Homo sapiens: one gene and its partners. The protein of the gene in region 1 purifies or fractionates together with the protein of each later gene. This does not show direct contact. Each region holds a gene or a part of one and is shown in the gene's direction. Other genes may lie near its edges.

Region 1 (4,149 bases):
AAATTGGTCAATGAGAGACTCATCAGCATGGCCTACGGGCAGATTGGTGAGGCACCGGGGACTCCATCTCCTTACCACCCAGTGCCGGGCCTAGAGCAGTGCCTGGCCCACCGTGGGTGCTTGGGACCCTGGCATTGACTCAGGGGAGCAGACGTGGGCAGGACCAACCAGTGAGCTATCTGTGGGGGGGGTCTGCACCCCATCCTTCTCCACCTCCTCCTCTCTGCTGTTGATGTGTGCGGATCCCCAGAGGAGTGGAGCAGCCACCCTTGGGGGCTGTCCCAGCAAGCAGAGACTTCATGGCAGTGGTTCCAGGCCCAGGGAGGTCATTCCTGCGTAGGGAGCTCAAGCTGGGGATCCCCCAAGAATTCATGATGTTTAGGTGGCCTAGGTCAGGTGAGAGAGGGGCTCCAGGTTATCCCTCTGGGAGAGCCCTCTCTCCAAAGCCCCTGTCCCAGGTGGCCCACCCATCTCAGGGCCTCACCACCAAGTGAGACCTCAGGTCACCCTCTGGGAACCAATGTCCAGATAACAGGGCCAGGAGGGCATACTCCCCTCTCCAAGGAGGCCTCCGGGCCCTCTGAGGTGCCCTGGGTTGGCTGCTGGCCCCAATCTGAGCCTCTCCTCGGCTTCCTCTCTCCTCCTTCCAGGAATGATCCAGGCTCTCGGTGGCTTCTTCTCTTACTTTGTGATCCTGGCAGAAAATGGCTTCTTGCCCGGCAACCTGGTGGGCATCCGGCTGAACTGGGATGACCGCACCGTCAATGACCTGGAAGACAGTTACGGGCAGCAGTGGGTGAGTAGGGCAGGGTGCTGTGTCTCTGCCCACCGTAAGATCCCCGGGGTGAGCTGTTCCAGCCATGCATGGCCACTTCCTACGATGGCCCCCTCAGTCTCCCATGGCAGCATCAAGGCCTTTGCTGGGCACCTGGGGCTTCCTGGATGCCCTTGGCCCAGCCCATCTGGAGCCTTGTGTCCCACTGCTGGAGCTCTCTGCCCTGCCAGGCCTTCTTCCCCACCTCTGTCTGTCCCTTCAAAGCCCAGTTGCTGTCTGTCCTCCTTGGGAGGCCCACAGGGTCCTTATCCTCCTCCCTGGCCCCTGGTGGATGGTGAGATCACCATTAACCTTTCTTCTTCCTTGTACGTCTCCTGACTCCTCCCTCGGGACTATGAGCCCGCAGAAGGAAGACACACCTGAGGCCCTGAGGACCCCATGCAGGATGGGGCGGGGCAAAGAGCACCGGAACGTCGGGGTGGCGGCTAGGGCTGCAGTGCCACTAACTGACGTCCCGTGCCCTGGTCACCGCTCCTGCAGACATACGAGCAGAGGAAGGTGGTGGAGTTCACCTGCCACACGGCCTTCTTTGTGAGCATCGTTGTCGTCCAGTGGGCCGATCTGATCATCTGCAAGACCCGGAGGAACTCGGTCTTCCAGCAGGGCATGAAGTGAGGGCCGGGGGCACATGGTGACTGGACAGCCATCTGTCCTGTCCGAGTGTCTGTCTGTCTGTGTACTTCCTCTTGTGTCCTTGCTTTGGTTTTTTGTTGTTTTGTTGAGGCAGGGTCTCACTCTGTCACCCAGACTGGAGTTCAGTGGTGTAATCATAGCTCACTGCAGCCTCGACCTCCTGGGCTCAAGTGACCCACCCACCTCAGCCTCCTGAGTAGCTGAGACTACAGGTGTGCACCATCATATATGGCTAATTTTTATTTATTTATTTAGAGACAGAGTCTTGCTCTGTTGCCCAGGCTGGAGTGCAGTGGCACAATCTTGGCTCACTGCAACCTCCGCCTCCCGGGTTCAAGCGATTCTCATGCCTCAGCCTCCCAAGTAGCTGGGATTACAGGTACGCACCACCAGGCTCGGCTAATTTTTCGTATTTTTAGTAGAGTTTCACCATGTTGCCCAGGCTGGTCTCAAACTCCTGAGCTCAGGCAATCTTCCTGCCTCAGCCTCCCAGAGTGCTAGGATTACAGGTGTGAGCCACCATGCCCAGCCCATTTTGGGTTTTGCCACTGCACTGATTTTCTCTCAAGGGGTCCTGTGTGTCCTAGATTCTCTCTCAGCCTCTGTGTGTGTGGTGGAGGTGCCCCTGGCCTTTTCTTTTTATACCAGTGCCTCTCTGTGTCTGTCCCTGTCTCTGTGTCTGTTTCTGTCCCTGTCTCTGTGTCTGTCCCTGTGTCTGTCTCTCTGTCTGTCCCTGTCTGTCTCTGTGTCTGTCCCTGTCTCTGTGTCTGTCCCTGTCTTTTGTCTCTTTCTGTGTCACCATCGCTCTGCCTCTATCTTTGTCTCTCTCTGTCGGGGCATGTCTCCCCATCTCTGTCTCTCCCTATGTCTCTGCCTCTCTGTCTCTGTGTCTGTGCTGCTGTCTCTGGGTGTCTGCACTGTGCCTCCCCCTGTCTCTGCGGGGTGGCAGGTGCAGGGTGGGTGCTCTCTGGGCCCAGCCCTGCCCTTCTGTGCCTCCAGGAACAAGATCCTGATCTTCGGGCTGTTTGAGGAGACGGCCCTGGCTGCCTTCCTGTCCTACTGCCCCGGCATGGACGTGGCCCTGCGCATGTACCCTCTCAAGTGAGTGCCCCGCTGCCCCCAGCCCTGCCCACACCAGCGCCTGCCATGGAGCCTTCCCTTAGACTCAGCCTGAACCTCAGGCCCCACCTCCCCTGGTGTCCCCACTGCAGTCCCCATTCTGATGCCCCCGAGCCTCCCCCATAGGCTGCTCCCACCACGGATTACTCCGAAGACCCCAGGCCCCAGCCCCGCCCAGGGCACCCTCCACCTGTGAGCACGAAGGATCCTGGGAGACTGCCCCTCTGCGTCCCCTCCAGTCCCCTGAAACTCTGCCTCTCGTTAGGGCCCCGCACTCAAGCCCTCCTGCTCTCCCCTCTGCAGGCCCAGCTGGTGGTTCTGTGCCTTCCCCTACAGTTTCCTCATCTTCGTCTACGACGAAATCCGCAAACTCATCCTGCGCAGGAACCCAGGGGGTGAGGGAGCTCGGCAAGGCAGCCGAGGGGGGCGGGGGGCAGCAGGGTCTCAGGCAGCTGGTCCCAGGCTCCCCTCGCCCTGCTGGATGGCTCTGCCACCTGGTTCCCACTCTTCTCTCTCTTCCCATCTCTCCGGGCACCCACTCTGTCTTCTCACGGGTCTCTGTCTGTGTGGTTTCCTTGTCTCTCTCCCTCTCTGTCCCTCTCTCTGCTGGGCGGCTCGCCTTGCCTGTCTCTCTCCATCTCTTACTCTGTCTCTTTCTTTCCTTCTTTGTCTCTCCAGGTTGGGTGGAGAAGGAAACCTACTACTGACCTCAGCCCCACCACATCGCCCATCTCTTCCCCGTCCCCCAGGCCCAGGACCGCCCCTGTCAGTCCCCCCAATTTTGTATTCTGGGGGGAGGAGCCCTCTCTTCCTGTGGCCCCACCTTGGCCCCCACCCCCTCCACTATCTCCTGCCGCCCCCACTCTGGCTGGCTTCTCTCCCCTGCCCCAAACCTCTCTCCTCTCTCTTTTCTGTGTCAGTTTCTCTCCCTCTCCTCACCCCTCTATCCATTCCTCCCGCCCCAGCCACCTCCCTGGGCTCTTTTTTACTCCCCTTCAGCCCCCCGGCTGATGCCATCTCTGGTTCTGGACAATTATCAAATATATCAGTGGGGAGAGAGAAGCGGTGTGTGTGTTGTGCCTGCTTTCCAGACGGGGACTGCGGCTGGGACAGCATCCCCTCTGTTGGGGCGCGCTGCCAGGCGACTCTCGAAACTGCAGGAACTTAGCCTGGCACTGGCTTGGAAGTCACGGAATCTCAGAGCCATCTAATCACGGAGTTTTCAACTCCACGAAAGTCAGAGCAGCTTGAATTCACCAGGCGATGGCATTGTGGAATCAGAACAGGGGAGAGGGAGGGAAGCAGACGTGGGATGGTGACTGGGAGCCTCTCCTATAGGAGTAGGACCCAGGGGACACAATGACGATGATGATGGTGATGACAGTGATTCACTGAGTGCCTGCTATGTGCTCTGCCCACTTCTAAGTGTGCATTAAATGTGCACAGAGAGAAGAAGTGATTTGCACACAGCTAAGAAGAGACAAATCTGGGATTTGAACCAAGGCTGTCCAAAGTTCTAGGTCACTACGCTATTCTCTCTTTTTATTGAGATAAACTTTCAT
Region 2 (3,500 bases), on another chromosome or scaffold:
TTTCTTGGCAGTGAGCAACCTTCAGCCGGCAAGCGTTAGAAGTGAGAAGTTGGACTGCTTATTTTGTGAGATGTGGTTCTTCCTAGAGTGGGGAGATTCGTGTGAAGATGGCTTCACTACTAATGAGTCCTGTGCCTGCGCTTAGGTGGGTCAAGTGCACGGGGGACTCATGGGTGTGATTCAGAGAGCCATGGTGAAGGCCTGCCCACACGTCTGGTTTGAGCGCTCGGAAGTGAAGGATCGCCACCTGGTGGCTAAGAGGTAATGGACAGAACACTGCTGTTCTGCTTGGCCAGTTAGAATGCTGAAAAGGTTTCAGGGTAGTTATCCCTCCACAGTGCAGTTACGTGCCTTCTATCATAAGCCTATACTGCTTTCATAATAATTTTTTCCTAAAACATGAAATTTTAAAAGTGGCCGGGTGTGGTGGCTCATGCCTGTAATCCCAGCAGTTTGGGAGGCCGAGGTGGGCGGATCACTTGAGGTCAGGAGTTTGAGACTAGCCTGACCAACATGGTGAAAATACAAAATACTAAAAATGCAAAAATTATTGACGGGCATCTGTAATCCCAGCTACTAGGGAGACTGAGGCAGGAGAATAGTTTGAACCAGGGTGACAGAGGTTGCAGTGAGCTGAGATCGCGCCATTGCATTCCAGCCTGGGCGATAGAATGAGACTCTGTCTTAAAAAAAAAAGTATAGAAACCCTAGTATTATTTACCAAGTTAATAATGTTTCTTAACCTTTTTTTAATTCATTGTACCCATCATAATAAACAAAATACGAATTTTTACTGCTATTTGAAACCTCAAAATGAATTCATTTATCACAAATAAAAAGAAACCTAAGGCAGTGGAACAAAGTACTGCCCTGTTTTCAAACTTTAAGAAGGTGAATCTGCTGTAAGTAATGCAAAGAGATTTGCAGCAGACAGAGACATCAAGACAGTTGAGACCAAGCCACACATGGTGGCTCAGGCCTGTAATCCCAGTGCTTTGAGAGCCCGGGAGTTCGAGACCAGCCTGGGCAACATAGGAAGACCCCCATCTCTACAAAAAATTTAAAAATTAGCTGAGCGTGGTGGTACGCTTCTGTAGTCCCAGCTACTTGGGAGGCTGACGTGGGAGGATCGCTTGAGCCAGGGAGGGTGAGACTTCAGTGAGCTATGATTGCACCACCGCATTCCAGCCTGGGCAACACAGGGAGACCCTGTCTCAAAAAATAACACATAAGAAAAGACAGTTGAGATTATCTTCCATAGAGACAGATGAACTCTCCCCTAACTCCCTTTGCTACATCTCAGGGACAGAGCATCGAGCCAGCAGGGCTGGGCCCAGCCTCACAACTGTTACATAGTCTAGTGACACAGGTTTATTGAGGGGGCCATGCCCAGGCCTTGTGGCAGGTGTCTCTTTCAGGTGGCCCCCAGGTTGAGTGGCATCATTGGTGCTCCGATGTTCGCACAGAATTGAACAGTTCTGTGAATTAAATGGTAACCTGATTTTTCTCTATCCATATACATTTTTTCTTGATGAGCATTAGATTATGGGTTTAAAAGGATACAGTTATGCTTGTTAACTTTTTATAATCGAAACTAGTGTCACAAATAAATAGGTTATTTATAAACATATTTTGACGATGTGTATAAGGTTGTCTGACCCTTTATTTTATTTTCTTCTTTGAAAGACTGACTGAACATGTGCAAGATAAAAGCAAGCTGCCTATCCTCATCTTCCCAGAAGGTAAGAAGGGGTTGGTTGCCACGAAGGGCTTCTGTGGGGAGTGCAGGAGTGTGATGCTGATGTTTCCTGGGAACCAAGGCCCTCAGCCCTTGTTGGGGTTATCTGTTTTCACTGAATAATGTTAGGTCCCCTTTAGGTTGGAAGTAGGACTAAAAACTCAGGTAAGTTCAGAATTTGAACTAAGAATGCCATAGTGTGAACTCCCCAAATGCAGGAATTTCTTCTGTAATGTTTCAGCTCCTCACAGAGCTCATGGTGTCCTCCTAAGGCCACTGCGCGTCTCTGCTTTATCTAGGCTGTGTGTATGAATCAGGGAAAGTGGTCCTGTAGAAAGAGAATCGGAGGCACCATCTTGCCTGTCTCTGTTAAGTGTTTGTTTTTAAGTTAGGGAGATGACAGATGTATCTTACTGGAGGAACCATTAGAAGAATTTTGACTATTATACTTAGTCTTTAAGAAACGCCTAATATCTGGGGTAAAGGGCCAACAGAAATAGCATTTTATTGTCTCCTGCATTTTAGGAACCTGCATCAATAATACATCGGTGATGATGTTCAAAAAGGGAAGTTTTGAAATTGGAGCCACAGTTTACCCTGTTGCTATCAAGGTATAAGACCTCCGATGGTACACACTGTCATTACTGGAGCTGCTGTGAGTGGGGTGCAGCAGGAGGAGGTAGAGGAAGGAGCTGGGGTCACCAGTCTGTGGTCGATGCCCTCAGCAGAGTGGCGTGGGGCTGGGTTGACGTGGGTCAAGTGCTGCCGGAGGAGGATGGTGAGTGCTCAGCACCCCTTAGAAGGGCCTGGGGAGTGTGGAATGGGGGACAGCCAGATTCCCGCCTGCATGCTGCTGCCGCCACCATTCGGGAAATGGCAAGCCCTTCACTTATTACCTTGCTTCATAAACCTAGCTGGAATGTAGGCCCCTCCACATGGAAAGCTGGCTGATTGCAGGGCACAGTGGTGTGGTTTTAAGCTGGATTTTTGCATTTTGGGGGAGCCATGAGGATTGGGGGGGGGGTCATTACTCCAGCCCAGTGGGAGAAACAGCTTCACTGCTTTTAGTTGTGTCATCTTTTAGACCTACAACAGCTCCTAACAATGAGATGGACCCTGGGAGTTTATCTAGTCTACGTCGACCCTTTAGGAACTGCTCCTCTAACCCTTCAGACACCCAGAGCTATAGGATGTGATTAGCTAGTCATCTGCACATTGTTCCTCCCCGCTCTTACCCTCTTCACATCCACCAGGCCTCACATCATGACACCTACAAAACACAGGCCATCCTCAGTGTGGTTAAAGTATTTAGGCTGCAGCCTGAGAGCTCGATAAAATGGTGAGCAGATATGAGTCAGGCTCACACTTAGAATTTCTTTTGTAGGGGACTGGGTTGTCTGCAGAGCATTCTGTAGAGTTGGTTCTGACTTTCTTTTCACCTTGCCAGTGCCACTGGAGAGGTGTTGCTCCTGGTGAGGCCGATGCTCACCAGCCACTCACTGTTTATCATTTAGGCAGAGGACCAGGCCAGGGATGGCAGATGAATATTGCCTGCAGGGGACTCTGATTGACAGGCTAGGACTCACCAGAGCCTGAGGATGCTGTGTCTGGAAACAGCAGGAAAGAGGAACATAGTCTGTTAGCAGAGTCTGCCTTGGGTGTGGGAGTGGGGACTGGCATCTGCATCCTGCATTCTGGCAAAACGAGGACAGGTGCTTTGCAGTGTGACCGTGATGCTGGATGGAAGCCCTTACTGCTGCCT
Region 3 (3,500 bases), on another chromosome or scaffold:
TTGGAAAAATTATTATTAGTTTTATTTTATAAAATGATATGTGAGAATATACAGTAACACTGAAGGCCTGCCAGTTGTAGGTTATGTTTAAAGTACTCAAAGAGAAAAGTAAAGTTCTGTGTGTTTATGCTTTCAAATTGGTGTGTTTTTAGAAATATCTGTAATTGCATTATATTGTAATTCAAAATTTCCTCATTTAAATATAACTTGAATTTTGTTTTATGTAAAATTGTAATGCCTCATGATTTTTACAAATAATTCCTTTCCTCATTGCTCCTAGGTGAAGTTGTGGTATGATAAAGTGGGACACCAGCTGATTGTAAATGTTCTGCAAGCAACAGATCTACCTGCTAGAGTAGATGGACGTCCTCGAAATCCCTATGTAAAAATGTATTTTCTTCCAGATAGAAGGTAGTGAATAATTTTAGAAAAAAAAAATCTTAAAATCTGTACTAATAGAAAAGGTAGAATTTTCTCTTTTGGGATGTTTTTAAAAAATATAATAGATAATTCTGAGGAGATAAAAGTACATTATCTCTGAAAAAAGAAGTCCCTCAAGTGTTGGAAATTGTGTTGGAAATATTTGAAAATAATCTGTCAATTAAAAAAATCTATTACCTTGTTTATAGGTATATTAGTCTTTGATAGCGACACATCATTTAGAATGTACCTTTGTATGTGTCCCTATAATTACAATACTGCTTATATTGTAACTGAAGTTAGAATATTATTAAACTCTATTATCTTTTTATAGACTTTCCATGAGTTATTAGTTAAAATAATATAAATATCAATGGCAGTTTTACATGTAACTACAGTAGATGGCAGCATGTACTTGCTTTTTCATTTACAAAACATACTTATTTTTCAGTGATAAAAGTAAAAGGAGGACCAAAACAGTAAAGAAAATACTAGAACCAAAATGGAATCAAACTTTTGTCTATTCACATGTACATCGTAGAGATTTTAGAGAACGAATGTTAGAAATAACTGTGTGGGACCAACCAAGAGTGCAAGAAGAAGAAAGTGAATTTCTTGGAGAGGTGATGTATATTTTAAAAACTCAAGTCAAATAGTTAATAAAGTTTTGTGATATTTATTATGATTACTATTACATTATGTTTTGATAAAGGTACTTGATTTAATTTGAGAATTACCCTCTCAGATCCTCATAGAATTGGAGACAGCGCTTTTAGATGATGAACCGCATTGGTATAAACTTCAGACACATGATGAGTCTTCACTACCTCTGCCTCAGCCATCACCTTTCATGCCAAGGCGACATATTCATGGAGAAAGCTCTAGCAAAAAGCTACAAAGTAGGTTAAGGTCCTTTTAGTTGCCACAAAGTAATTATGCTGTAATGATCTAATTAGTGATTAATAATTCAAGATGTTTTTTTTAAATGTTTTATTAGAGATCAAAATACTGGAAAATTGTTCATCTTTATGAAGCAACTTGGCAAAACTGTTTCTACATTTTCACAATGAAAATAATGTAGATAGCATAGCAGAGTAATTGCAGAGCTGCAAGCCAAAAACCTCTGAATTAAAATTCTTGCACAGGGCCAATTGAGCTGTTGGTTATTGACTGATGGAATAATTTCTGTCATCACTGGTGAGTTGCCACCTGTGAAGTCTTAATAACTTTATAGTTCAAAGATTTTTTCTCCCCCCACCGAGAGAGAGTCTCACTCTGTTGCCCAGGCTGGAGTGCATTGGCGTGATCTCGGCTCACTGCAACCTGCACCTCCCGGGTTTAAGCAATTCTCCTGCCTCAGCCACTGGAGTAGCTAGGATTACAGAAGTGCGCCACCATGCCTGGCTAATTTATTTTTGTATATTTAGTAGAGATGGGGTTTCACCATTTTGGCCAGCCTGATCTTGAACTCCTGACCTTGTGATCCATCCGGCTCGGCCTCCCAAAGTGCTGGGATTACAGGTGTGAGCCACCATGCCCAGCCAGTTCATAGATATTTTAATAGTTATTCATAAGAAATGTTGTTTAAAATATTAGAAGGTATGTTTATTGCTATTCATCTAGTGATTGGGAAAAGCTATTTTTTTCTGTACTTATTGAGTAATTTTTGTGTCATAACTACATTTCTAAGTTAACAGCTGAAAGAAGCCTCATTTTGGTAATCTGGAACTAAATTATTTTTCTCACATAATTAAATATTTCATGTTGATGCTTCCCTGATCAGTAATTTCCTCAAAGTTAATGTTTAATGAAGTATAATGACTAATTTGGGGAGCTAAACATAAATATTTTATAAAGGGCCCTGATGTTTTTTCATTAATATAGGCTGAATAGAGCTCCAGCCAAGAAATGTCTCTGAACCTTTCCACTCAGCCCTATTCTCTCTGAACTGCAGAGGAAAGCACTTAATTGTGTAGAAAACAATGTACTGTATATACTGTGCTGAAGGCTTTTAGTATAATATTTTAATTAAAGAATTAATCTGAAAATCTTATTCTGTGAAGTCCCCTTGTTTCTATATGTCTTTGGTGTAATGAGGAAAAAAATACTGATAAAATGTTATCCTTAGAGAACAAACATTTCTTTTAAAATTAGCTCAGTGTTTACTGTATTAGTCTTCATAAGTTTTCAGTAATAATGCAATTCACTTTTTAAAAAAAGTTTGACAGTGCTCTTTACGTTTCATAAACCAACCAGACACAGAAGTATCTCTTTGCCTTACTGTTGTGCAGGATCTCAGCGAATCAGTGATAGTGACATCTCAGATTATGAGGTTGATGATGGTATTGGCGTAGTTCCTCCAGGTGCGTGGGTGAGGAGCATGACCCTGCTTCACTGTGCTGCTTTGCTTGTTTTCTCTGTCAGCTTCCGGACCTCTTTAGGATACTAAACTGAAGATTTATAGCACAGAGAAATCAGTATTATATTATTCCATGGTGACTTACATTTCAAATTATTAAGAAAGTTTTAAATGGACTAGTCTCTACTAATTAGCATTCCCATAGTGAGGTTCTTCCGTAGAAACATGTCTAACTAGTGAAACAAATCATTATTTCACAATGCTCTGAGCGTAAGTGAAAATACGAATTTTATTTTGAAAAGATGGGGTTATTAAATAAAAATTCCATTTTTCTGTGTTTTATATTTGCATTTCTATGATTTTCCTTCCACCATTTCTGAAAATAATGTAGCCCTCCATGGAATATACTGAGAAAGGTGCATGGCGGGGTTTAAAATTGCATGTGGCATGGCTGTAACTTTTAAAGCTTTTGTGATGTGTTCCCACTGATTATACCTAGAATGTGTGTATATGTTTTAATACAATAATATGTTTAAGAAAGATTAAGTATTAATTTGAAGTGAACATCTCTTTGTCATTGTGTAAGTTAGTAAAACTTTTGTGATGTTGTAGGGTTTAAATGTTTCTCATCTGACTTCTGTCAGAAAAGTGTAAAATCAAGTGGTAAAGACTTACTTTCTTGGCACTAATTCTATACTTTTTAAAAATTTACTAATGAGAG
Region 4 (3,500 bases), on another chromosome or scaffold:
AGGCAAGCTAAAAATCAGTACTATTTTAATTTATACAACAATTTTAGCCCAAAACACTGAAGGCATGGGCCACTATTTTATAATCTCCTTTAAAGTGGAACGCAGGACTGGCAAATTATAGCCTATATCTTCAAATACTGCCTGCCTGCTGTTTTTCTGTAGCCCATGGGGTAAGAATGATTTTTATATTTTTTAATGGTTGGGAAAAATATCAAAGGAATGATATTTCTCCTTTTTGCCCAGTACCCTCACTGAATTGTTGGGGAGGGGCTGCTGCTATTCAGGAAGCAGCAGCACTAGCAGAATTCAGGTTATACAGTCATTCTTCAAAAGATTTAAATTTTGTCTCTATCACTTACTTTGATACCTTGGGTAAGTTACTTCAGTTCTCTGTGTCTCAGTTTTTTCATCAGCAAAATAGGGAAAATAATAATCTGTAACAATAATAGCACAATGCCTGGAACAGAGTTAAAAATTAGTAGATTTCAGCTACTGTTATTTTTATTTATTTTTTTGTTGAGAAACAGTCTTGCCCTGTCACCCAGGCAGGAATGCAATGGTGTGATCTTGGCTCACTGCAGCCTCTGCCTCCCGGGTTCAAGTGATTCTCCTGCCTCAGCTTCCCAAGTAGCTGGGATTACAGGCACCTGCCACTATGCCTGGCTAATTTTTTGTATTTTTAATAGAGACGGGGTTTCACCATGTTGGCCCGGTTGGTCTCGAACTCCTGACCTCTTGATCAACTACTATTATTAAAGTCCCAGTTTTCTCTCCTCATCATTCTTGTTTTGGAATATTACTTCTTATATTACTGTTACTGCTTATCCCTGCCTCACATGTCAGTAACAATATTGTTGGTACTTTTTTCACAGCAAGGCATTCTGGTAAAGATTGATTCCTGCAACATAAAAACCCTTAGGATTCAGTAGCTGTACCGATTTCATTTAAAAATGTTATTTATTCATTACATAATAGGTGTTAATAGAATTTGAGTTTTACCAAAGTAATACTAAATTTTAATATGCAAATATATAGTCCTGCCCTATGTCAGAGGAACATACTTTAAAAAAATTGTAGCATCATTGTATACAGTAAAATGCATAGATCATGAGTGTACAGTTAGATAATTTTAAGTCTGTATACCTGGGCTCTAACTCCCAATCAAGCTGAACATTGTTATCAACTCAGAAAGTTATCTTGTGTCCTTTTACAATTTGTTCTCCTTAGAGGTAACCACTATTCTAATTTTTCTCCCCATAGATTAATTCAAAGCAATCATATTCACTTATTAGCTTCTTATGGTCTTTTATTACCATGGTGACCACTAGACCCTCTTCTGCCTTTGTGCAATTTAGAAAAAGATCCCCTCTCTGGTGGTTTGGAGAATAGAGCATCAGTTGGTTTCTAGACCTACTGATTCCCTTGGCCTGGCATCCTTGTACTGGAAACAACCTGCCCAACCATACATGGCGATCTTAACTCCATGTTTCTCACTTTTTGCCCCAGTAGGGCGTGGTGCGGCGGGCAGCAGAGTCTTGCTCTGTCACCCAGGCTCGAGTGCAGTGGCATGATCTCGGCTCACTGCAACTTCCGCCTCCCAGGTTCAAGTGATTCTCCTGCCTCAGTCTCCCGAGTAGCTGGGATTACAGGTGCCCACCACCACTCCCAGCTAATTTTTGTATTTTTAGTAAAGACGGGGTTTCACCATGTTGACCAGGCTGGTCTGGAACTCCTGACCTCAAGTGGTCCACCCACCTCGGCCTCTCAAAGTGCTGGGATTACAGGCTGAGCCATAGCACCTGGCCCTCCATGTTTCTCTTTTAACTCCCTATTTCTCTAAATCAGTGGTTGTTAAACATTTTGCTCTGAGAACTCCTTTATAGTCTTAAAAATTGTTCAGGATCCCAAAGAGCTTTTGCTTTATGTAGGTTATATATATTTCCAAATAACCAAAAAGATTTAAGAAGACTAACAGTAACATTGTTTTACATTCGGCAGTGCCCTTTATTGAATAGCTTAATAGAAGATAGCCGGATTTTCCTATCAAATTCTTCATTCAGTCTGTTGTGATATGGTGCTTAGCTTCTGGAAAATTGCACTGTACAATTTTTATTGTATATAAACATAGCGAGAGAATGAAAGTGAAAATGACAGTTTTATTATTTAAACTAACACAGTCTTAGTTTTATTATGAAAAAAGTTTGACCTTGTGGACCCCCTGAACGGGTGTGTTCCTGGACCACATTTGCAGAACATCTATTCTAAATATTTGCTTATACTGCTGTTTCATGGTTTGTTTTCATTTGTTTTATTTTTTGCAGTTTTAGATAATACCTATTGATAATAGCTACATGGAAGGTGAATATTTAGCTTTTTCTGAATATTTACACACTGCACACATGATCTCTTCTCCTGTTCTAGCAATTTCTGGTTAAATTGATATTTAGTGTTTTTTATTATAATTAACATAAACATTAGTTACATTTGAGTATTGTAGTATACTTTTATTTTACTTCCATTCTTGTATAACAACTTTTTATTTTCCCTGAATTTGATCATGCTTCTTGGGGCAGGAGAGAGGGTTCCTTAATTTTCTACATACTTACTGCTCATTCATTCCTCAGACTCTGACAGCAGTATAATTGTCTTTCTGTGTCTTCAAACTCACCAGGTAACTTACCAAGTTTCTTTCTTTCTTTCTTTCTTTTTTTTTTGATGATTTCTTGCCCATCATTCATTAGTTTTCTATTCCAGACTGGTTGCACTCATACAAATGTCCTGAGAGTCATAATCATCTTGGAAGAATTGCCTTTGTCTTTATCACATGCTAGATCTACAGTTTCATAAATCTGAAGAAAAAGATAAATTTTTAAAAAATCTTACGTGTCTCAGAATCGTTATTCCATCCTCATATTTGATAATTTATCTGGGTGTAAAATTCTAGGTTAGCATTCATTTTTCTCTCAGCATTTTGATGGCATTGCTCCATTATCTTCTAATGTGATGCCATTCTGATTCCTTGTTTGTACATGACTTTTTTTCCCCCTTTGGTTGTCTACAGGCTGGTGATTTTCTCCTTATATCTTTTTTTTCTTTTTTCTTTTATGCTTTCAGCTTTCAACATTTTTATTGACATGACTTGTCTGCTGTCATTCATTTTCATTCTTTGTGGCTTAAGGTTTATTTGTTTTATCCCTTTACTGTCGCTTTATTGAGCTTTCAGGAGGAAGTAAACAAACATTTCACTGGAAATCAATATTAGAACTTCAACTTAGCTATCTTGATAGCTTTTTAAAGATTTGTTAGAATATTTCCTTTTACATTAAAAATTGACTTAATGATAATTAATAATGGATAATAATGGAAACCATCTGAATTACCATTAGCATTAATTTAAGATCAGACAGGATGGTCTAGAAAGATTGATGAGGCATCCTCTGATCGTCCTCTTCAAAGTTCCAAGATTGTCTCCTTCATGAGGAATTTTAGAGGCAACTCAT
Region 5 (3,500 bases), on another chromosome or scaffold:
GATATAATTCAGTTGTGATAAAACCATCCAGCATCCAGGAATAGGGTACTTTTAACTACATTTTAGGAATTTTGGCTGGGTTCAGTGGCTGGCTCACGTCTGTAGTCCCAGCACTTTGGGAGGCTGAGGTGGGTGGATCACTTGAGGTCAGGAGTTTGAGACCAGCCTGGCCAACGTGGCAAAACCCTGTCTCTACTAAAAATACAAAGATTAGCCAGGTATGGTCACGTGCACCTGTAATTCCAGCTACCCTGGAGGGTGAGGCACAGGAATTGCTTGAACTCGGGAGGCAGAGGTTGCAGTGAGCAGAGATCCTTCCACTGCACTCCAGCCTGGGTGGTGGAGTTAGACTCTGTCTCAAAAAAACAAACAAACAAACAAACAAAAAACTAGTTGGGCATGGTGGTACACACCTGTAGTCATAGCTACTTGGGAGGCTGAGGCAGGAGGATCGCTAGAGTCCAGGAGTCTGAGGCTGCAGTGAGCTATGACTGTACCACCACACTCCAGCCTGGGTGACAGAGAGCCTCTTAAAAATTTTTTTTAAATTAAGAAAAGGAATTTTTTTATTCTACTTTGAAGAAGTATAATAACTCAAGAATACACCAAAGATGAGAGTGGTCTCATCTTAGTGGACTACCTATATTTTGGGTCTTTTGCTTTACGGTTTATAATTATAACTTATTTATTTATTTATTTACTATAGGTAAACTAACATTATGGATTTTTCCAAGCTACCCAAAATACTCGATGAAGATAAAGAAAGCACATTTGGTTATGTGCATGGGGTCTCAGGACCTGGTAAGTAATACATCATAATCTCAAAATAAGGATATCTAACTTTGATTAATGTCTTTTCAAAATATTTTACATAGAAATATACAACTTTCTGTTTACCTGCATAAATTCTGTTTGTCCTTAGGCGATCTCATAGTGACTATAAGACCGAAGTAGAATCTCTGTCATAAGGGCTCATCTAGCATTGATTATCTAAATTTTATAATTATTGAGGTACTACTTTGTGATATCCTGTTTATAATTATGTAAATGTTCAACCAGTGTTCAGTTTTATATGTCTTAATTTTTTGTTAAATTTGAGGTAAATAAACTATGAAGTTTATAGCTTTTAATATGTAATACCTTGCATATAGCAGGCATTCAGTAAATGTTAATTTGCTTTGAACTTTAATAATTCAAACGCTCAGAGCATTTCTCAGCAATATTAGCTTTTGCCCTTTGCATTTATGAAACTTTTTGAATGGTTATTTTAAGTGTCACATTATTAACTACCTGTGGGAAAGAAGTCTTAGGACCCAAACTTTATGTCCATTCTGCCAAAACATGGAGTGCTGCTTTTTAAATAATAAATCTTACGCCAGTATTTGTTTTGTTATTGAATACTCCCACTACACAATGTGATTCACAGTCACAGTTTCTCTAAGTAAAACCTGGTCAGTGATGTATTATCCTTAAAACCTCATGCTATATAGTCTTTTTCTTGTTCTAGTTAGAGTAGTGGTGATGACAGTTTTTTGATGTTTACGCAAATGAAGACTGTCAGTCACTGTGCCTCTTTTTTCTCCCCCAAGAACTTGGTGTTTGAGCTTGATTTCATTGGCAGGTCATTAAAAGGTTATCAGTATCTTTTGCCATGCAGAGAAATAATTGTCCTCTCAATGATCATAAGGGTCTTCAGGATGGACAGACTAAACCCAAGAACCTTTAGAGAAAAGGCAAAAGAACATCAGAGAGTTTAGGAAAAAATATTCTGTGAAACTGTGTAGTAAACTGCTCCTGGAAACAATTTTTATTTTATTTTAAAAATTTTTTTAAATTTTACTTTAAGTTCTGGGATACATGTGCAGAAAGTGTAGGTGTGTTACATAGGTATACATGTGCCATGGTGGCTTGCTGCACCTATCAACCTGTTACCTAGGTTTTAAGCCCCACGTGCGTTAGGTATTTGTCCTAATGCTCTCCCTCCCCTTGCCTCCTGCAATTTTTAATTCTTAAGTACTTAATAAGGTAATGGAACAATGGCATCCTTTTTTGGCTTATGAAATATGATTTTTAAATTTCATTATCTCTGGTATTTCAGTGCATCTTAATTCTTAAGTAGTCGGCATAGAGGTAAATATTTATAGAATGAATAAGTCTTCATTGTTTTTACACAGGTTAATTAACTCATAAAGCTTTAATAGTTTCCACTGAAGTATTACCTATAACATAGTTCTAATCAGTTGTATCAGAAGGCTAAATATTAAAAATTGGTTTATTCTTACACGTGTCTAAAAATATGGCAACCTTCCTTCCCTGCTAGAAAAGTAATTTTTGCTTACTAGACCACATGGTCCAAAATAGTAAGTTCAGTAAATGGAATTCCATTGACAATTTCTTACCCAATGGTGGTGACTGATTATAAATATCCTTACGGCCTATGAAAAAAATTTTGTAGATGTGTGTGTGAGTTTTTCTAGTAGAGCTATTATTAGTTTTTGAAAAGGGTCCATGTCCCAGAAGAGTTTTAAGAACTACTGCTATAAGTTATTAGAAAGTAAACATGTTGCTTTAGGTCTGTCTCTCAAAGGAAATGGTAACAGCACAGCGAAGTGATAATTGTGTGGCATTCTACCATACTACTAGCCAAACCATTTATTCCAATTTCTACTTTTAAAAGTTTTTTTTATTGTTCCAAAGCCTTCACTCCATGTATCATAGCAACTCTCAGAACATACCTGAATCCTACCAGGTAAGTTTGCCATGCAGAACTTGAAATGTTTGAAAAGTTTTCATGTATATTATGTAAATAAATAATCTTTGGCTTACCTCTTTATATTATACACTAAAATATATATCTATGTGAAACTACCAGTATGTTCCATAGTAGGTTTTTATCCTTCTTATGAATATATGAGAGAGGCACAATACTGGGTTTATTGGGTGTTTTAATTATTTGTGACTATTCACAGAGCACTAGAGTCTTAAGTCATCAAAATAGTCTTTTGTTCTCTTCAGTGGTTACAGCCTGTGACATGGCGGGTGCAGCCATGTATGAGCTGGTGAGAGTGGGCCACAGCGAATTGGTTGGAGAGATTATTCGATTGGAGGGTGACATGGCTACTATTCAGGTGTATGAAGAAACTTGTATCCTTTTTGGCTCAATTTCCTGCCACTTTCTATATTTCAAAATTTAAGGATTTAGGCCAGGCATAGTGCCTCACACAAAGTAATCCCAGCACTTTGGGAGGCAGGCAGGTGGATCACCTGAGGTCAGGAATTTGAGACCAGCCTGGCCAACATGGTGAAACTCCATCTCTAATAAAAATACAAAAATCAGCTGGGTATAGTGGCAGGCGCCTGTAATCCCAGCCGCTTGGGAGGCTGAGGCAGGGGAATCGCTTGCACCCTGGAGGTGGGAGGTTGCAGTGAGCAGAGATCGCACCACTGCACTCCAGCCTGGGCAACAGAGTGAGACTCCATCTCAGAAAAGAAAAAAAAAA
Region 6 (3,500 bases), on another chromosome or scaffold:
TTGTAGTTCATCTGTTTTCCAGAATAGCTTAGGGAAACCCCAGAAAACTTGCATGTGAAAAGGAAAATAATGCTAAATTATCCCTCATTTTAATATTTCAACCTAAAAGCATCGTCGAAGCCCTCCACTTACAATCAAGCAATCATGCATTCTTTATTTCTTTGGGGGATGTATCTTTTAGATCAGATTCCTGTGTTTGTGACTATGTTCCAGAAGAACGATCGAAATTCATCCGACGAAACCTTCCTCAAAGATCTCCCCATTATGTTTGATGTCCTGATTCATGATCCTAGCCACTTCCTCAATTATTCTACCATTAACTACAAGTGGAGCTTCGGGGATAATACTGGCCTGTTTGTTTCCACCAATCATACTGTGAATCACACGTATGTGCTCAATGGAACCTTCAGCCTTAACCTCACTGTGAAAGCTGCAGCACCAGGACCTTGTCCGCCACCGCCACCACCACCCAGACCTTCAAAACCCACCCCTTCTTTAGGTAAGGTTTCGCAGTGATCTTTGAGGGAGGCTCCTTAATGGCTAACAAAATATTCACGCAGGTCATATTATTAAATCCCTCCTTAAGGGGATATTGTAAGGACTCTGCGGTGATTCCATTTTCTACCTGTTGATTTTTTAAAGCAAAGTTATCACCATTTTACACCTATAGAACACAGAAGAAGGAAGAATGTATGTAAAGTCACTTTGCAAATAGAATTCAGTGACTTGTAGAAAGTTCTTTGACCCTCCTCATTTGCACTGGTCCCTGCTATGTGTACACACTCTCCCCTCTTCTAACCTGTCACATTTTTGTTTATCTCCCATTTTTTATGGCTATGAGAAGGCACACTGGCTCCTTATACGATCAGGTCATTTCTATGTTCCTTCCTCTCCCCCACTAATTTCTTTCCCTACCCTGCCCACACCTACCCAGTGTCCATGAAAACACAGCTGTACTTGAAAGCAATTTCCAAATGGTCCAAGAAAGAATGTAGCTTGAGAGTATGTCTGGGTTAGCAAGCTGCAGTGACTCCTGACATTAAAATTGTGCTGCATCGTATGTTTATTGCGGCACTATTCACAATAGCAAAGACTTGGAATGAACCCAAATGTCCATCAATGATAGACTGGATTAAGAAAATGTGGCACATATACACCATAGAATACTATGCAGTCATAAAAAAGGATGAGTTCATGTCCTTTGTAGGAACATGGATGAAGCTGGAAACCATCATTCTGAGCAAACTATCACAAGGACAGAAAACCAAACGCCGCATGTTCTCATTCACAGGTGGGAACTGAACAATGAGAACACTTGGACACAGGGCGGGGAACATCACACACCAGGGCCTGTCGGGGGGTAGGGGTAGGGAGGCGGGATGGCATTAACAGAAATACCTATTGTAAATGACGAGTTAATGGGTGCAGCACACCAACATGGCACATGTATACATATGTAACAAACCTGCACTTTGTGCACATGTACCCTAGAACTTAAAGTAAAATTTAAAAAAAAGAGAAAAATAAATAAAAATAAAACTGTGCTGCATTTAAGGCATGATTAATTCAATACCACCCTATATTAATAGTCTGGGGACATTCAAGAAGTCCTTAAGAGTCCACTTTGGGTAGCACTGGCTTCCATCTGATTCCCCACGCTACCCCATGCCATCACCACCCTTTTCCCACTGGGCCAGTTGCACTCAGCACCCCAGGATCCTGGGGATAGCAATAGGCTGACATCCTCTCACTGGTCACAAGAGGGCGCCAGGGACCAAGCCCACGACGGTCCATCATGACGTCTGGGGCTTCTTGTTTTTACAAAATCCTGTTTGTTATAAATTATAAAGTTTTACAATAAGATGTTAGTAATAAAATGAGAGCTTGTTAAATCAAGCATATCTAAGTCAAGACAACACAAGTTATCACTGATTTCGATTATCTCAAAAATGTTTTAAATTACAAAGTTTATGCATGTTCCTTAGTAAAAATTAAAACAATGTAGATGTCTAGAGTAAAAAGCAAAAGTCCCCACTCGTACTCTCCTCCCAAGAGTTAAACCCTGTTAATAATTGGGAGGATTTCTTTCCAGATATTTTTCTATGCATTTATAAACATATACTATATATACACATAAGGTTTGTTTTGGTTGTGTAAATGGGTTCATTTACACAAGAGGGCTATTCATATTGTTTTACAATTTGCTCTTTTTCTAATTTAACAAACATTATAGACATCTTTCCACTGTTAATACATATAAGTCTATCTCACTTTATCCAGTGGCTGCATAGTGTTTCATAGAATGTATGTACTGTCATTTATTTCACCATTCTCTTTTTTTTTTTTTTTTTTTTTTTTTTTTGAGACAGCGTCTTGCTCTAACACCCAGGCTGGAGTGCAGTGGCACAATCTTGGCTCACTGCAACCTCCACCTCCTGGACTCAAGTGATCCTTCTGCCTCAGCCTCCCAAGTGGCTGTGGCTACAGGCATACACAACCACACCCAGCTAATTTTTTTATTTTTTAGTAGAGATGGGGTTTCGCCGTGTTGCCCAGGCTGGTCTCCAACTCTTGAGCACAGGTGATCTACCCACCCCAGCCTTCCAAAGTGCTGGGATTATAAGCGTGAGGCACTGTGCCCGGCCCACCATTCTCTTATTGATGGATGATTAGATTAATCCTAATTCCAACTACAATTATAACTGTATTGAACAACTTTAAATATACAGCTTCATTCTAGTAATCCTTTAGGAGAAGCAATTTTTTTTATCTACAACTATTAATGATCTTCTTTACAAATAAGAGGACCAGGTATAAAATTCAAAATAAATTACAGATGCTTTTAATATTTAAGTTCCAGAATGGTAAAAGACTTAATGTTAGGTTGTTTAATGTTAGTCTACTTTGAATTGCATTTTTATTAAACTAGCTTGTTTTTCTTATAAACTATTTATATCATAGCATGTTTTAAAAATATATTTGAAGCCAATGAAAAGCTATTTAAAATTTCTGTTGTAATTTCTCCCTAGGTGACACCATAAGATATAAACTAGTGGGCCAGGCATGGTGGCTCACATCTGTAATCCCAGCACTTTGGGAGGCCGAGGCAGGTGGATCACCTGAGGTCAGGAGTTCGAGACCAGCCTGGTCAACATGGTGAAACCCCGTCTCTACCGAAAATATAAAAATTAGCCGGGTGTGGTGGAGAGTGTCTGTAATCCCAGCTACTTGGGAGGCTGAGGCAGAAGAATCGCTTGAACCTGGGAGGTGGAGGTTGCAGTGAGCCGAGATCGCGCCATTGCACTCCAGCCTGGGCGACAAGAGAGAAACTCTGTCTCAAAAAAAAAAAAAAAAAAAGATATAAACTAGCAACCCCTACAAGTTAGTTAAGTTTTATTGCGAAGGAAAGCTGCCTGGCTTTATCTAAAGGTGTTAGATCAATCATAATCAACCCCAAAATGCCTTAAACCAGCATCTCTCTTAGGGAGAGCGAGGAGGGA
Region 7 (3,500 bases), on another chromosome or scaffold:
GCTCAGGGGCCAGGAGGCCTCTCATCTTTAAAGTAGGAATGACAACCGGCAGGCCCTGGGTACTGAGCTGTGCTTTACCGAAGAGCGGCAGGTCCTGACGCCGTCTCCTCTCAGGAGTGGGGTGGCGGCGTGCTCAGCTGAGGAGCCAGGTGGCAGTCAGGCTTGGCTTGGCCTGCCCAGAAGCAGGGCTGTGGCAGGACCTTGGACACGTGGCTTCCACTGTTTGAGACTTGGTGAAATGGGGGTCATGATGCCCTTCACTTGAGCATCTGGGAATTAAGTGGGTGAACAATGTGACCTCTGGCACCTGGGTTCTCAGGTGAATTCCTCATGGCATCACAGCAGTGTTGAAATAGGAGCAGATACGTTACCTCCGCTTGCCAGATAAGAAACTGGGACGCAGATGGATGGACTACCTGAGAGTTGTAGATAACATTTTCCTGTTCATGGGGTGGAGGACCTGGCCCTGAGAGGACAGGATCCCTCCTGCTCCTGCCAGACCAGAGACCCAGGACAGGGCGTGGAGCAGACAAGGTGCCTGGGCGGGGGAACCCTGAGGGATCCACAGAGGGTGCGGTCCTTGGAGGGAGGACATGCAGTGCCACGTGCCATGGACCAGCCAGTGGACCCCATGGCCAGCAAGGCTGCTCCTGGGGCCAGTGGGGTGGACAGTCCCGCCCACGCAGGTGACTGAGGTGCCAGTGTGGGAATGAAAATGCGGCCTGTGCTCCTGGGCCCATGCGTCTCACGCTGCCCTTCCTCTCCAGGGAAGCCTGTGTACCTGCTACTTTTTCCCGAACAATTCATGGTAAAAACACAAATGGTATATGGACAAAATACTGAATGTGGAAGAAACCTACTTGACAGTGTTGGTGAAAATAGGGCCAGGATTTCACACCCGTGAATGCTTTTTACTGAAAAGTATTTTGTGTTTTTCTCCCAGTTACAGAATGTCTGAAGGGGACAGTGTGGGAGAATCCGTCCATGGGAAACCTTCGGTGGTGTACAGATTTTTCACAAGACTTGGACAGGTTGGTGGGTTTTTTAGTAGATGAGTATAAATATTTGAAAAAGAAACGGGACTCCCAGCATTTTCGGGAAGGATCTGTTTGCTGGTGTTCCTGATGGAGAAGTTACTTCGCCTCAGGCTCAAACTTCCTGAAGACAGCGTTCTCTTCACTGTGAAGGGCCAGCTGTGGAGAGATCGGGCTCTGGGGCCACACGTGGTCTATCAAACATATGCGTTTTCTGTTTCTGTTTTCCTTTTACCAAGCTTTAAAAATATAAAACCCAGTCTCAGCTCCCAGGCAGGACAGATGCGGCCGTGGCTGCCGTTCTGCTCTTGCTGTCCCTCTCCCAGCCACCCACGTCCCCGGTGCTGGTAGCCCCACCTGCCCCGTGTCAGCTCGGCGGTTCTGTCCTTGAGGGTGAGAGGCTCTTGTGTGGGCTGCGTGTGCATTGCTTGGTGAGTGAGGGACCTAGAGCTGCCTTTGAACGCTGGAGTCCGAACCTCTGTCAGGAAAAGCTTGGGTCACCGGCAGTTCCAGGTGCTGAGGATCCGGCTCAAATAAAAATTCATCACCTTAATTAAATCACATATGAAAAGCGATTGGCGATTAATGAAGTTGGGTGACAGGCATATGTAAGCTTCTATAATCTTTTTACTTTTGTGAATTTGGAAATTTCTCACAATTTGAAAATTAAATTTCTAAATTAAAATAAAAAACCATACATATGTATATTTGTAAAAATAAATACATAAAACTAAGGGCTCCTTCGGTCATGTCCACAGCCGCCTGGACGCACACACATGTGGGTGTGGCTGCTGGGGCTCAGGCTGTGGCCAGTGGGCCTGGGAGCGGGGCAAGGCTGGCTGCTGGCTGCTGCAGATGGGGGAGCTGACTTGAGATGTGACGATAAGGGCTGTGCTGTAGGGTGGGGACTTTGAGATGCACAGTCCTCTCTTTGGGGTGAGGCTGGGTCTTCCCCATAGTGATCCCTTGGGGCCAGCACAATGTCACAGTCTCCTAGGAGATTGTTTTGTAATAGTCTTGCTTAAGAGATGAACCTGCTTCAGGAATTATTGAAAATAAACTTTGGATTAATTGTAGTCACTTCTTTGTGCTGATACATAGATGATCTCTTGCTATTTTAACTCACTCTTTTAGCTGTTTTAAAAATTGAAAGCCAACCCTAGCAGAAGGTACATTTTGTGGCAGGGTCAGTACAGAAGTTACAGGACCTGCTTCATGCTTTTGGACTCTTGTCTTTCTAGATTTATCAGTCCTGGCTAGACAAGTCCACACCCTACACGGCTGTGCGATGGGTCGTGACACTGGGCCTGAGCTTTGTCTACATGATTCGAGTTTACCTGCTGCAGGTAGGTGTGGGCTGAAGTGACGAGACTTGGCTCTGTCCACGTTACCTGGGCGTGATGTTTGTGGGGATGTTGTTGATCCAGTCTGTCTTGCAGGAAGTGGTCTCTAGTAATCAATTTTCAGCTAAACGCCAAATGTCAGAAAGATCTCAGTGACTGTCTTTAACGAACAGGGTTGTTTATGATTCACCCGGAGTCGCCTCGCCAGGCTTCTCAGTATACCCAGGCCGTCCTGAGCCCAGCCTGGCCCTGCCCTGGGCACGTCCAGGCCTGGACAGTGGAGCCGCTGGTGTCCCTCCGACCCTGCTGCATGATGCTCAGGACAAGGTTGCGCTCTGTGGCTGCCTCATTCCTTGGGTGAAGAGTCCATGCCTTGGGTGTCATGAATGACTCGGCGTCCAAAGGGTTTATGTAGCTTTTCCTGAGCTCTCCCTTGTGTGAGGCCAAAGCACAGTGCAGGTTGAGACGCCGAGTCAAGTAAGAGAGACAGTGACCGAAGGGGGTCTTGAGGGTTTCCTTCGTGTGTTTTCGGGCACCCCTAGGTCAGGTGATGTCGTCTCAGACTTCACCTGGGTGCTCCTTTACTTGCTGGTAAACACGGGGTTTCTAGGAGCAAACCTGTAAGATGGGAATTCTTCGTCGGTCTTTAGAGGAGGTTACATAATCTTATGTGCAGAGCAGGGCATGTTGAAAGCCTTGTCTGGGCTATTTTCTCCTCTGGGGACTGTAGAAGATACTTCCTTGTTTAAAGCACACACCTTAATTTATTTATTTATTTTTGTTTTTAAATTGGAACTGGGTCCATTCTCTGATGGAAAGAATGACCTAGAAATCTTGAATCAGGGACTTCAGGCAGGAGCAGGGGGCGGGAAGAGTGCAGCACCCACAGGTCAGTTTTATTGCGTTCGAAACCAAGCTCGTGCCTCATTTGGCGTCTCTTCAGGTGTGGCCCTGCAGCCGAGGATGGACACACAGACATCAGTTAGCCCTCACATCCGGCGTTCAGCCGAGGATGGACACACAGACATCAGTTAGCCCTCACATCCGGCGTTCAGCCAGGGATGGACACACAGACATCAGTTAGCCCTCACATCTGGCGTTCAGCCGTCTGACTGGAAAAGCT

The links.
Region 2: the proteins of ATP1A3 (region 1) and GPAT4 purify together in Homo sapiens (affinity purification with mass spectrometry; one large-scale study listed by BioGRID and IntAct). This does not show direct contact.
Region 3: the proteins of ATP1A3 (region 1) and RIMS1 purify together in Homo sapiens (co-immunoprecipitation; one large-scale study listed by IntAct). This does not show direct contact.
Region 4: the proteins of ATP1A3 (region 1) and ITM2B purify together in Homo sapiens (co-immunoprecipitation; one large-scale study listed by IntAct). This does not show direct contact.
Region 5: the proteins of ATP1A3 (region 1) and ATP6V1A fractionate together in Homo sapiens (co-fractionation; one large-scale study listed by BioGRID). This does not show direct contact.
Region 6: the proteins of ATP1A3 (region 1) and GPNMB purify together in Homo sapiens (affinity purification with western blotting, with the first as the bait; one study listed by BioGRID). This does not show direct contact.
Region 7: the proteins of ATP1A3 (region 1) and RER1 purify together in Homo sapiens (co-immunoprecipitation; 2 studies listed by BioGRID and IntAct, with this or other methods). This does not show direct contact.

The regions. Positions count from the first base shown.
Region 1 is NC_000019.10:41,966,082-41,970,230, reverse strand, and holds the end of ATP1A3 (sodium/potassium-transporting ATPase subunit alpha-3), read left to right. Parts: coding exon 1-46; intron 47-650; coding exon 651-796; intron 797-1,315; coding exon 1,316-1,446; intron 1,447-2,467; coding exon 2,468-2,569; intron 2,570-2,890; coding exon 2,891-2,982; intron 2,983-3,265; coding exon 3,266-3,294; 3' UTR 3,295-3,649; downstream 3,650-4,149. UniProt on the Homo sapiens protein: This is the catalytic component of the active enzyme, which catalyzes the hydrolysis of ATP coupled with the exchange of sodium and potassium ions across the plasma membrane.
Region 2 is NC_000008.11:41,612,700-41,616,199, forward strand, and holds part of GPAT4 (glycerol-3-phosphate acyltransferase 4 isoform 1 precursor), read left to right. Parts: intron 1-145; coding exon 146-261; intron 262-1,686; coding exon 1,687-1,742; intron 1,743-2,263; coding exon 2,264-2,349; intron 2,350-3,500. UniProt on the Homo sapiens protein: Converts glycerol-3-phosphate to 1-acyl-sn-glycerol-3-phosphate (lysophosphatidic acid or LPA) by incorporating an acyl moiety at the sn-1 position of the glycerol backbone. Active against both saturated and unsaturated long-chain fatty acyl-CoAs.
Region 3 is NC_000006.12:72,250,050-72,253,549, forward strand, and holds part of RIMS1 (regulating synaptic membrane exocytosis protein 1), read left to right. Parts: intron 1-280; coding exon 281-411; intron 412-871; coding exon 872-1,043; intron 1,044-1,165; coding exon 1,166-1,319; intron 1,320-2,711; coding exon 2,712-2,783; intron 2,784-3,500. UniProt on the Homo sapiens protein: Rab effector involved in exocytosis. May act as scaffold protein that regulates neurotransmitter release at the active zone.
Region 4 is NC_000013.11:48,239,706-48,243,205, forward strand, and holds part of ITM2B (integral membrane protein 2B), read left to right. Parts: intron 1-3,500. UniProt on the Homo sapiens protein: Plays a regulatory role in the processing of the amyloid-beta A4 precursor protein (APP) and acts as an inhibitor of the amyloid-beta peptide aggregation and fibrils deposition. Plays a role in the induction of neurite outgrowth.
Region 5 is NC_000003.12:113,778,035-113,781,534, forward strand, and holds part of ATP6V1A (V-type proton ATPase catalytic subunit A), read left to right. Parts: intron 1-706; 5' UTR 707-719; coding exon 720-801; intron 802-3,015; coding exon 3,016-3,144; intron 3,145-3,500. UniProt on the Homo sapiens protein: Catalytic subunit of the V1 complex of vacuolar(H+)-ATPase (V-ATPase), a multisubunit enzyme composed of a peripheral complex (V1) that hydrolyzes ATP and a membrane integral complex (V0) that translocates protons.
Region 6 is NC_000007.14:23,260,275-23,263,774, forward strand, and holds part of GPNMB (transmembrane glycoprotein NMB isoform b precursor), read left to right. Parts: intron 1-181; coding exon 182-499; intron 500-3,500. UniProt on the Homo sapiens protein: Could be a melanogenic enzyme.
Region 7 is NC_000001.11:2,394,841-2,398,340, forward strand, and holds part of RER1 (protein RER1), read left to right. Parts: intron 1-943; 5' UTR 944-950; coding exon 951-1,031; intron 1,032-2,275; coding exon 2,276-2,380; intron 2,381-3,500. UniProt on the Homo sapiens protein: Involved in the retrieval of endoplasmic reticulum membrane proteins from the early Golgi compartment.